2 linked regions of the Homo sapiens genome follow. The protein of the gene in region 2 purifies or fractionates together with the protein of the main gene of each other region. This does not show direct contact. Each region holds a gene or a part of one and is shown on either strand. Other genes may lie near its edges.

What was found. The genes of interacting proteins can lie anywhere in the genome.
Region 1: the proteins of IDH3G (region 2) and PPT1 purify together in Homo sapiens (co-immunoprecipitation; one large-scale study listed by IntAct). This does not show direct contact.

The regions. Positions count from the first base shown.
Region 1 is NC_000001.11:40,087,102-40,091,116, forward strand, and holds part of PPT1 (palmitoyl-protein thioesterase 1 isoform 1 precursor), read right to left. Parts: intron 2,412-4,015; coding exon 2,309-2,411; intron 1-2,308. UniProt on the Homo sapiens protein: Has thioesterase activity against fatty acid thioesters with 14 -18 carbons, including palmitoyl-CoA, S-palmitoyl-N-acetylcysteamine, and palmitoylated proteins. In contrast to PPT2, PPT1 can hydrolyze palmitoylated proteins and palmitoylcysteine.
Region 2 is NC_000023.11:153,787,570-153,792,554, forward strand, and holds part of IDH3G (isocitrate dehydrogenase [NAD] subunit gamma, mitochondrial isoform a precursor), read right to left. Parts: intron 3,283-4,985; coding exon 3,241-3,282; intron 3,007-3,240; coding exon 2,995-3,006; intron 2,724-2,994; coding exon 2,626-2,723; intron 2,256-2,625; coding exon 2,143-2,255; intron 567-2,142; coding exon 506-566; intron 387-505; coding exon 254-386; intron 29-253; coding exon 1-28. UniProt on the Homo sapiens protein: Regulatory subunit which plays a role in the allosteric regulation of the enzyme catalyzing the decarboxylation of isocitrate (ICT) into alpha-ketoglutarate.

The sequences.
Region 1 (4,015 bases), on a different chromosome or scaffold from region 2:
TTTTTATGATCTCTTACCTCCTCTCTCCCTGTTCTCTCTGCCCTTGTGGGTTTATCACTTTTTATTCTTCTGCTACCACTTAATTAAAGTTTAAGGAGGAAGTGAAGATAAACACATCAATCTATAGCTTTTAATCAGTATTTTTTATTTTTATTTTTTGAGACAGAGTCTCACTCTGTCATCTAGGTTGGGGTGCAGTGGTGCGATCTCAGCTCACTGCAACCTCCGCCTTCTGGGTGCAAGCAATTCTCTAGCCTCAGCCTCCGGAGTGGCTGAGACTACAGGTGTGCACCACCACGCCTGCCTAATTTTTGTATTTTTAGTAGAGATGGGGTTTTGCCATGTTGGCCAGGCTGGTCTTGAACTCCAGGCCTCAAGTGATCTGCCTACCAAGGCCTCCCAAAGTGCTGGGATAACAGGCATGAGCCACTGCGCCCCGCCTTAATCAGTATTTAGGTGTCACTTGTCACCCCCCGACGGACTGCTCACTTAGCATCACTAACAGAATTCTGATCGCCAAGGGTTGTTTTGGTTCACACAAAGAAAGAAAAGTATAGGCGTTTTGGAGGCAACTGGGCAAGAGTGAGAATAAAGAGTAAAGGAAGAAGAATGAAGTTTAAATACCATGCAAATCCATGAGAACAGAGAATATGTAGAATATAAATAATTAAGTTGTAATTAGCCACAGCCAATCAAACCAGGCAAAGGGGAAAGCTTGGTGTAGCCTGAGGGTAAAAAAAAGGAGCTAGAGGTACAGAGTATCTTAGTTTTCTATAATAACCATCAGGTGGTACTGCTGACCCAAAACAGCTTTGTGGCTATTTGTGTAGCCAACGAGTGGGAAAAGAAAAGACAGCTATTAGCTGTAGGTGGTTACAACATGAGTCAGTCACAAGGCTGTATCTTGGAAAATGGCTTCAAGAATATACTGTAATAAAAAGTTGTTATTTGACAAGAATGAGACACTTGGAAAACCCACAGGATATTAGTTGATCCCAAACTCCAGCTATCATCAAGAGCACGTCAGACCTACCATCAAAACTTTTTTTTTTTTTTTTTTGAGACGGAGTCTCCCTCTGTTGCCTAGGCTAGAGTGCAGTGGCGCAATCTCGGCTCACTGCAAGCTCCGCCTCCCGGGTTTTTTAAGTGATTCTCCTGCCTCAGCCTCCTGACTAGCTGAGATTACAGGCGTGCGCCACCACGCCCAGTTAATTTTTGCATTTTTAATAGAGACGGGATTTCACCATGTTGGTTAGGCTGGTCTTGAACTCTTGACCTCATGATCCACCTGCCTCCACCTCCCAAAGTGCTGGGATTACAGGCGTGAGCCACCATGCCCGGCCCACAACTTCTAAGGATAAAGCCCAGGAATCCATTTTTAATGAATTTCCCTGTGGTTCTGATATACAATTAAGTTTGGAACCAACTGAACAAGCACATACTACAAAAGTAATTCTGCATCTTTTTTTTTTTAAAAATAGATTTTAACAGAGACAGGGGTCTCACTATGTTGTTCAGACTGGTTGTGAACTTCTGGCTTCAAGCAATCCTCCTGCCTTGGCCTCTCAAAGAGCTGGGATTACAAGTGTGAGCCATTATGCCAGGCTGGCCATGCTAAATACCCAAATACATTTGAGTAGTCAGGGACAGTGATATAGGGAGTAGCTAATGACATAAAGAATCTGTCCTCTAAATACCAACAATAATTCCTTGAGCTTAGTACTTTCTAAAGGCTTTCTGTTTGTTTTTTAAGGATGGAAATTTATTCTGTTATAATTACATTCTTCTTACATAGAAAAATGCCCTTGTTTTTCTTTCTTTGTTTTTTAGTTAATAGACTTTTTGGAGCAAGTTTAGGTTTACAATGAAATTGAGCAGATAGTACAAAAAGATCTCATTTGAAGGCCGGGTGTGGTGGCTCACGCCTGTAATCCCAGCACTTTGGGAGGCCAAGGTGGGTGGGTCACCTGAGCTCGGGAAGTTGGAGACCAGCCTAAACAACATGGAGAAACCCAGTCTCTTCTGAAAATACAAAATTAGCCAGGCGTAGTGGCGCATGCCTGTAATCCCAGCTACTCGGAGGCGGAGGCAGGAGACTCGCTTGAACCTGGGAGGCAGAGGTTGCAGTGAGACAAAATCACGCCACTGCCCTCCAGCCTGGGCAACAAGAGCGAAACTCCATCTCAAAAAAAAAGATCTCATTTGAATATCACAAGGAACTACTGCTGGAATCACTGTGAGCATGAAAGTCAGCATGATATTTTCACACGGTGACAGGTCTGTAATCTTTTCAGCTAACCATACATACCGTTCCTGAACAACTTTGGAGTACGCCCCAGCATTCAGTGTTTTTCGGATGAAGTCACAGATGTGAGAGCTCTCTCCTGGGCATCGAGGGAGTCCAAAAACACCTACAGTGGTAGATGACAAATATCCACTCCTTCAATAATGATGTATCGAATACCCACTATGCACAAGGCACTGTGAGAAACAAAATGAACAGGACCAAACTCTGATTTCATTCACTTATTCCTCATGAAAATAAAGCGCAGAGAACTAATACTATCACCAGCTTCCTCCTGGTGCTGCTACACTCTTTCCTGCCTAAGGATCTTTTTACCTGCTCATCCCTGGAGGATGTGTTGCATCACATGGCTGGACGCATTTTCAGCTCTCAGGTCTTGGTCCTACACAAGTCACATCTGACCACCTTATCTCAAATAGTACCCACCCCCATTTCCTTCCCCTCCCCCAGTTATACTTCATCCTTAGCATCCTCATCAATAACATTGTTTTGAGTAACACAAATAGTTCTAAGCAAAATATTGGCAATAATTAATTTAATCCTCACAACCACCCTGTGGAGTAGATTTCATTATTTGCCCTATATCACAGATAGAAAACTGTAAAAATGAGGTTAAATACCTTGTCCAAGGTTAGACAATAAGGTATAAGCCAGGATTCAGACACAGGCAGTTTGGCCCCAGAGCCCACTCCTTTAAGCACTACAACCACTAGTGTGTCCTTCGAACAGTATCCTGTTGTTTTTTTCCAAGAGATTGGGTCTTGCTATGTTGCCTAGACTAAAGTGCAATGGCTATTCACAGGCACAATTACAGCACACCACAGTGTCTTGAACTCCTGGCTTCAAATGATCCTCCAGCCTCAGCCTCCCAAGTAGCAGGGACTACAGGTGTACACCACCATGTGCCCAGCTATCCTCCATTTTATCGTGTATATATATATATGTGTGTGTGTATATATGTGTATATAAGTGCATATGTGTGTATATATATGTCTATATATGTCTATGTATGTGTGTATATAGGTGCATATGTGTATATATATGTCTATGTATGTATGTGCATATATGTGCACATGTGTGTGTGTATATATATATATTTCATGAATGCAAGAACCTTGTCTGTCTTGTTCCTGGCATATAATAGGTTTTCAATAAATATTTGTTAAATGAATGAATAATAAAGCTGTTTTTACCAACTTACGTTTGTATAATCCTTATACTTTTAAAAAGTATTTTCCTACCTATTATTTCACTTTATCCTCTGAAAAATTCCCATAGGACAGGCAGGGCCATATTTTGGTTTCTTCCATCTGTGAGTGGAACCTAAGATACCAAATTACTTGCCTAGGAGTAATAGTTAATTGGGTGAGTCCAGGTTTCCTGATTACACGGAGAATCATTCTGCTCCCACATTATACCAGCTAATAGCTATACCCATCAACAACAGAGATGAAATTCCATTCTAATGACACATCCTTCCCCAATAGTATGGAATTCCGTCAAAATAGAAAACCTGCTGTTTCTCAAAGAGTTTAAATTTATAGACACAAGAGCTTACACACTATTCTTTGCCTAAGCCTAAATTCAAGAGGATACCACCAAATCAGAGAACAGAAAAGGTCACTCAATTTTCCTAACTCCTCAACCACCACCTGCCACGTGGCTATAACCATCTTACTTCCATGCAATCGTGTCAATGAAATTGGAGAG
Region 2 (4,985 bases):
TCAGGCTCTCCACCACTCCCGCCACACTCTGAGGAGGGCATGGGGAGAAGAGACCCATGTGCTACTGAAGAGCAGCACTGGCCAAACAAGCTGGCGCGACCGGGCCACCGTGGGAAGCAACCCTGTCTGCCTATTTCTGGCTTCTCCCTCGGGCACAGCCCCTGCCCTCTAAGGGTACACCTGTCCCTGGTTCCTTAAGCTCTCCCCTTAATCTTGACGCTGGGGGGGCTCATCTCGGGCCCCCCATGCACACCTCATGCTCCAGGCTGCTGTACTCGCCCTCTGTGTTCTCCCGGACAATGAGGATGTCTATGTCCTTGTGCCGGGTCACCACGCCTGGAAGGCTCTTACAGTGGATGACGTTGGCATAGAGGTCCAGGCTGGTGCTGGGAGGGGACGGAGAAAGAGGCTGCTAGGCCTGACAGGTGGCTGACTGGAGCCAGACTCCACTGGCTCACCCCACCTTAGCCCCACCAAGCCCCCAGCCCGCACACCCGGATCTCACCGAAGGATGTTGTTTCGAGATTTGTGCGACGGTGGCAGGTTATGGTTGGTTTCGATGTTGCCTACAAAACACAACACAGGCTTAGTGGCACTGCCCATCCCCGCCCCACCTCAGCAGGGCAGCTGAAGGCTGCCGGGGTCAGAAGACTTGGGGAGCAAAAATGTTTCCTGAACACTAGAATGCTAGAATGCAACTTCCAGCCTAAGCCCCACGAGGCTACACGCTCAGGGATCTCGAAGGGCACCTGGTGCAGCAGGTGCTCCATGAATAACCCCTGAACGACGGAATGAACAAGTCAATAAATGAATAAAGGCTGGCAACCAGCCAGGCAGCCATGCCATTCTCCATCCAGGCTCTGGAGCAACAGAAAGTGACCACTCTTTACTAACAGGTTGGCCGGCCAGGCTGGAGCTAGCAAGGTGGCCTTGGCGGTGTTACTGCCAAGCCCCCGCATCAAGGCACCACACTCAGAGGCAGGCGGGGGCTGCCTGGAGAAGGCCACGGATTGGCCGGACCCTACCCTACGACCCAGGACACCTGGAGGAAGGGAAGCAGAGGCCAGTGGCCGCTGGAGACAGCAGTCAGAGGGCGCCAAGCAGAGGCCGCCTGCTGGTGAGCGGTACCCCACCCAGACTGCTCCACTCACAGCGCGGGGGTCCCCTGTGGCTGGCACAAAGGCCCCTCTACTTGACTGCCAGGGCCTGGGGCTCCCCCTGGGTTCATCTTTGCTCACACGCTCCTCACACAGTGCAAGTAATGGGCTGAGTGTGCAAAATGAGCAATGGAAGTAGTTTAAGGACCTCAAGTGAAGCCCCAAGAATCCCTGCCTGGGCTGTGCCATCCACCTCCAGGCTGGCTGCAGCCGAGGAGCCAGGCAGAGGGTCGGAACTGCATCTCTGTGATACCTGGTTTGTGAAGAAAGATGCTGAGGGTCAAAGCTGACCCCAGCAGAGAGGACTGTCTCAGGAGGGAAGGAGGGGTGGGAGGGAACCCATCAGGGAGCCCGTCACTGGACAGGCTCACACACAGCTGCTCTCACTCGAATCCCAGCATCGCAGCGCAAACAGGCCCGAGGAGGCGTCCACCCAGTCTCCAAGCACGAGGGTCCTCTCTAGCCAGACAAGCCCTGAAATCAGAGCCGTGGGGCCCCACAAGAGTCAGCTCAGAGGGAGGTAAAAGAAATCACAGGGGCTGGGCACGACGGCTCACGCCTGTAATCCCAACACTTTGAGAGGCTGAGGCGGGCAGATCACGAGGTCAGGAGTTCAAGACCAGCCTGGCCAACATGGTGAAACCCACTCTCTACTGAAAATACAAAAATCAGCTGGGCGTGGTGGCGGGCGCCTGTAATCTCAGCTACTCGGGAGGCTGAGGCAGGAGAATCGCTTGAAACTGGAAGGCAGAGGTTGCACTGAGCCGAGATCACACCGCTGCACTCTAGCCTGGGCGACAGAGCGAGACCCCATCTCAGAAAGAACGCAAGAAAGAAAGCAAGAAAGCAAAAAAGCAAGCAAGCAAGAAAGCAGGAAAGCAAGCAAGAAAGCAAGCAAGCGAGCAAGTAAGCAAGAAACGAAGGAAGAAAGCAAGAAAGAAATCACACCTAGGGCCCCATCCTGGCCCCTGGCCCTGGAGCTCACCCTTCAGGGCCACGCGGTTCCGGCGGATGGCCATGATGGCATTGCGAATGTCCTCTTCATCAGCATTGGAACTCACGTGCACCTCTTCAAAGTCCACTGGTACACATGCGTGCCTGAGGCACGGCAGGGTCAGGGAGGCTGGCCCAGACCCCCCCGCACCTCCTCCAGGAAGCCTGCCCAGGCTACCTCTCTCCTGTTGCTACCTGCCCTGACCTGGCTCTGACTGAGAAGGGACTGGGCCCACCTTCACTGACTGATGGGGACACGCTTGAACTCCACAATGCACACTGTGGCAGGACTGGTGCCACCTTCCCCGAGCCCAGGCCAGTCTGGCGGGATCACAGGCCATGGGACGCAAGGCCTGGGCTTACAGGTCGTCTTGCCATGGCCTCACCGAGTGCTTCTGGGCGCAATGCCCCTCTTGGCACAAAGTCCTCAGGGCCCCCTGGCTGAGGACAAGGCGGGGACCCAGGAGCTCCATACCTGAAGACGGACTTGACATGCAGCATGAGCTCTGGCCCGATGCCATCCCCTGGGATCATGGTCACCGTGTGCCGCCCGCCATACTTAGCGGACGGAGGCTGTGGGAGGCAGAGGGTGAAGGTGGGCCTTCGGGGATCCCACATGCCCCCAGCTCGGCCCCCATGGGCTCAAGCCAATTCCCTTCTTCCCACTGGCGCTGACCCCACAGGCTGCCCCGTCACAAGGTGCCAACTTGGGGCAGCCCCGTCCCAGACAGGGCTGCTCATCCAGGGCTCCTGGGTCAGCAGCAGCCCACCCCCACCTGGAATTTAGTTAACCCCAAAGCAACTAAGAGCCCCCCAAACCTAACAGGCAGAGAAGAATACTCACAATTGTTTGTTCCTAGAAAGGATGAGAAAGGAAGAAGACACAATCAGCCAAGGTTCCAAGAGCAAGGCCGTGACCAGGAAAGTGGGACCTTTTCCCAGGGGGATGCTGGCTAGTACAACTCCCAGAAGAGGGGTGGGTAGCCCCTGGAGACCACGTCTCAGAGGACAGGACACAGGCCGTGCACACACGCGCACAATTGCGGCCACATGGAGAAAGACACATGCGTGGGCACGGGCAGGTACTTACTGAAAAGATGTTCCTCGAGGGGACCTCGTGGGCGCCTAGAACCTGGCAGAGACCAAATGCCAGCGGTTGGTTTGATGTCTAACCCAGAAAGCCAAGTTGGAAGGAAAAACGGACCGTCCCCACTGTGCCCAGGCAGGTCCCCTGTCTGTGCAGCATGGCCCACTGCCAGGGGCACAATAGATAATTAGCTCCAAAGCCTCAGTCCCCAGGGCCGGCCCGCTGGAGCACCTGGAAAGTAGAAGGCGCTCCAGCCTCCTGCCTCCTTCCGCTCTTCAGAAAATTTCTTAAAAGGCGTGTCCCTGCCCTCCCTCCTCTTTTTTGCTTCTGATTATTTTTTTGGCCAGTTATTCCCGCTCAGCGATGTTTGTAACATGCAAAAACTGGCAAACTAACCCTGGTACAGCAGGGAAATCATTACAACAAACCACAGATCCATGACAACAGTCACGTTATCACTTCGCCGATCACTTTTTCTTATTACAAAAGCAGCATGTGGTCGCTACAGAAAAAGCAGAATAGGGAGATAAGAAGGTAGCACCCAGCCTCCGGCCTCCCTGAGACAAGCACTGCTGGCCCCCTGGGGAATGGCCCTTCGGCATTAGAAATCGAAAACAAATGTGTAGGGACATCCAGCCATTTCTGGAAGGTTGATAACAGAAACCCAACTCTAGGAAGGCCTTCGGAAAGGACTGCTGGATGCCGAATGTCCCCAACGCCCTGACTGGAAATGCCGGACAGCTTCAGAGCCAAAGCTGCCTGAGCCAAATGTGCCAGGTGCCAAGTGACCTGCTGTCCTGGAAGAAGCCCCACCTAGAACACACCTGAGACGGTGGCAGAGCCAAGGTCTTCCCTGTCACTTGGGGATGCCCTGCCACTTGACCACCAGGCAGCAGCAAAGTGTTCCAGCCAATGGCAGAAGCATCATAGCCATTGGCCAAAGAGCCATGCCTTCCAGCTAGAAGTCCAGAAAGGCTCGGGCGGAGTCTGACCTCTCCCTGTCTGTGTGTCCCTGGCCGGCACTCATCAGTCCAAGCCAGGGGCTAGGAGAGGGTGCCCACAAGGACCAGAGCCCCGAGGATAGCTCAGCTGATCTGTGTGGCACCTGGATCTGCAAGCACAGGCACGGTCGGGACTTTTCTGTCTTCTCTCTAGCGCTTATCAACGGGTCGGGACTTTTCTGTCTTCTCTCTAGCGCTTATCAACATCTGAAATCATCTTATTTGGGGGCTCTTGTAAGCACGCAGAAAGCGGCTTCGATGGACCTTCCTCCAGGGAGCTTTCCCTGATGCCCTAAGGCTACTGAGCTGGGACCCTAAGGCCCTACTTACCCCCTTCCCTAGGTTATCACTGCATTGCTCCCTCCTCAACCCCTGAGCCCGAGAGGAGGGGCCAAGTCAGTGTGGTCCAATACTGTCACCCTAGGACCCAGCACAGTACCTGGCCCAGAGCTGGCACATAAGGAACATTTCCTGAGTGAACAAGCACATCAGAAAATGAAAAAAGATCTGGAGACTAGGGAGGCCTCGGTCCAAATCCACCATCCACTCTTCTTGAGATGGCTTCATGGCCTCATCTGAAATTCACAGAACGGAGGTACCTACTTTCCGTGACTGTTGGAAAGATTAGGGGACAGGAGGTGTGTGAGCTGCTCACAGTAGCTAGTGCCACACAGCACGCCTGCCCCTTCACCCCACTGGCCCCTCAGGTCAGAGTTCAAGGCTGGTGTCCCTGGGAGGTCACGGGTG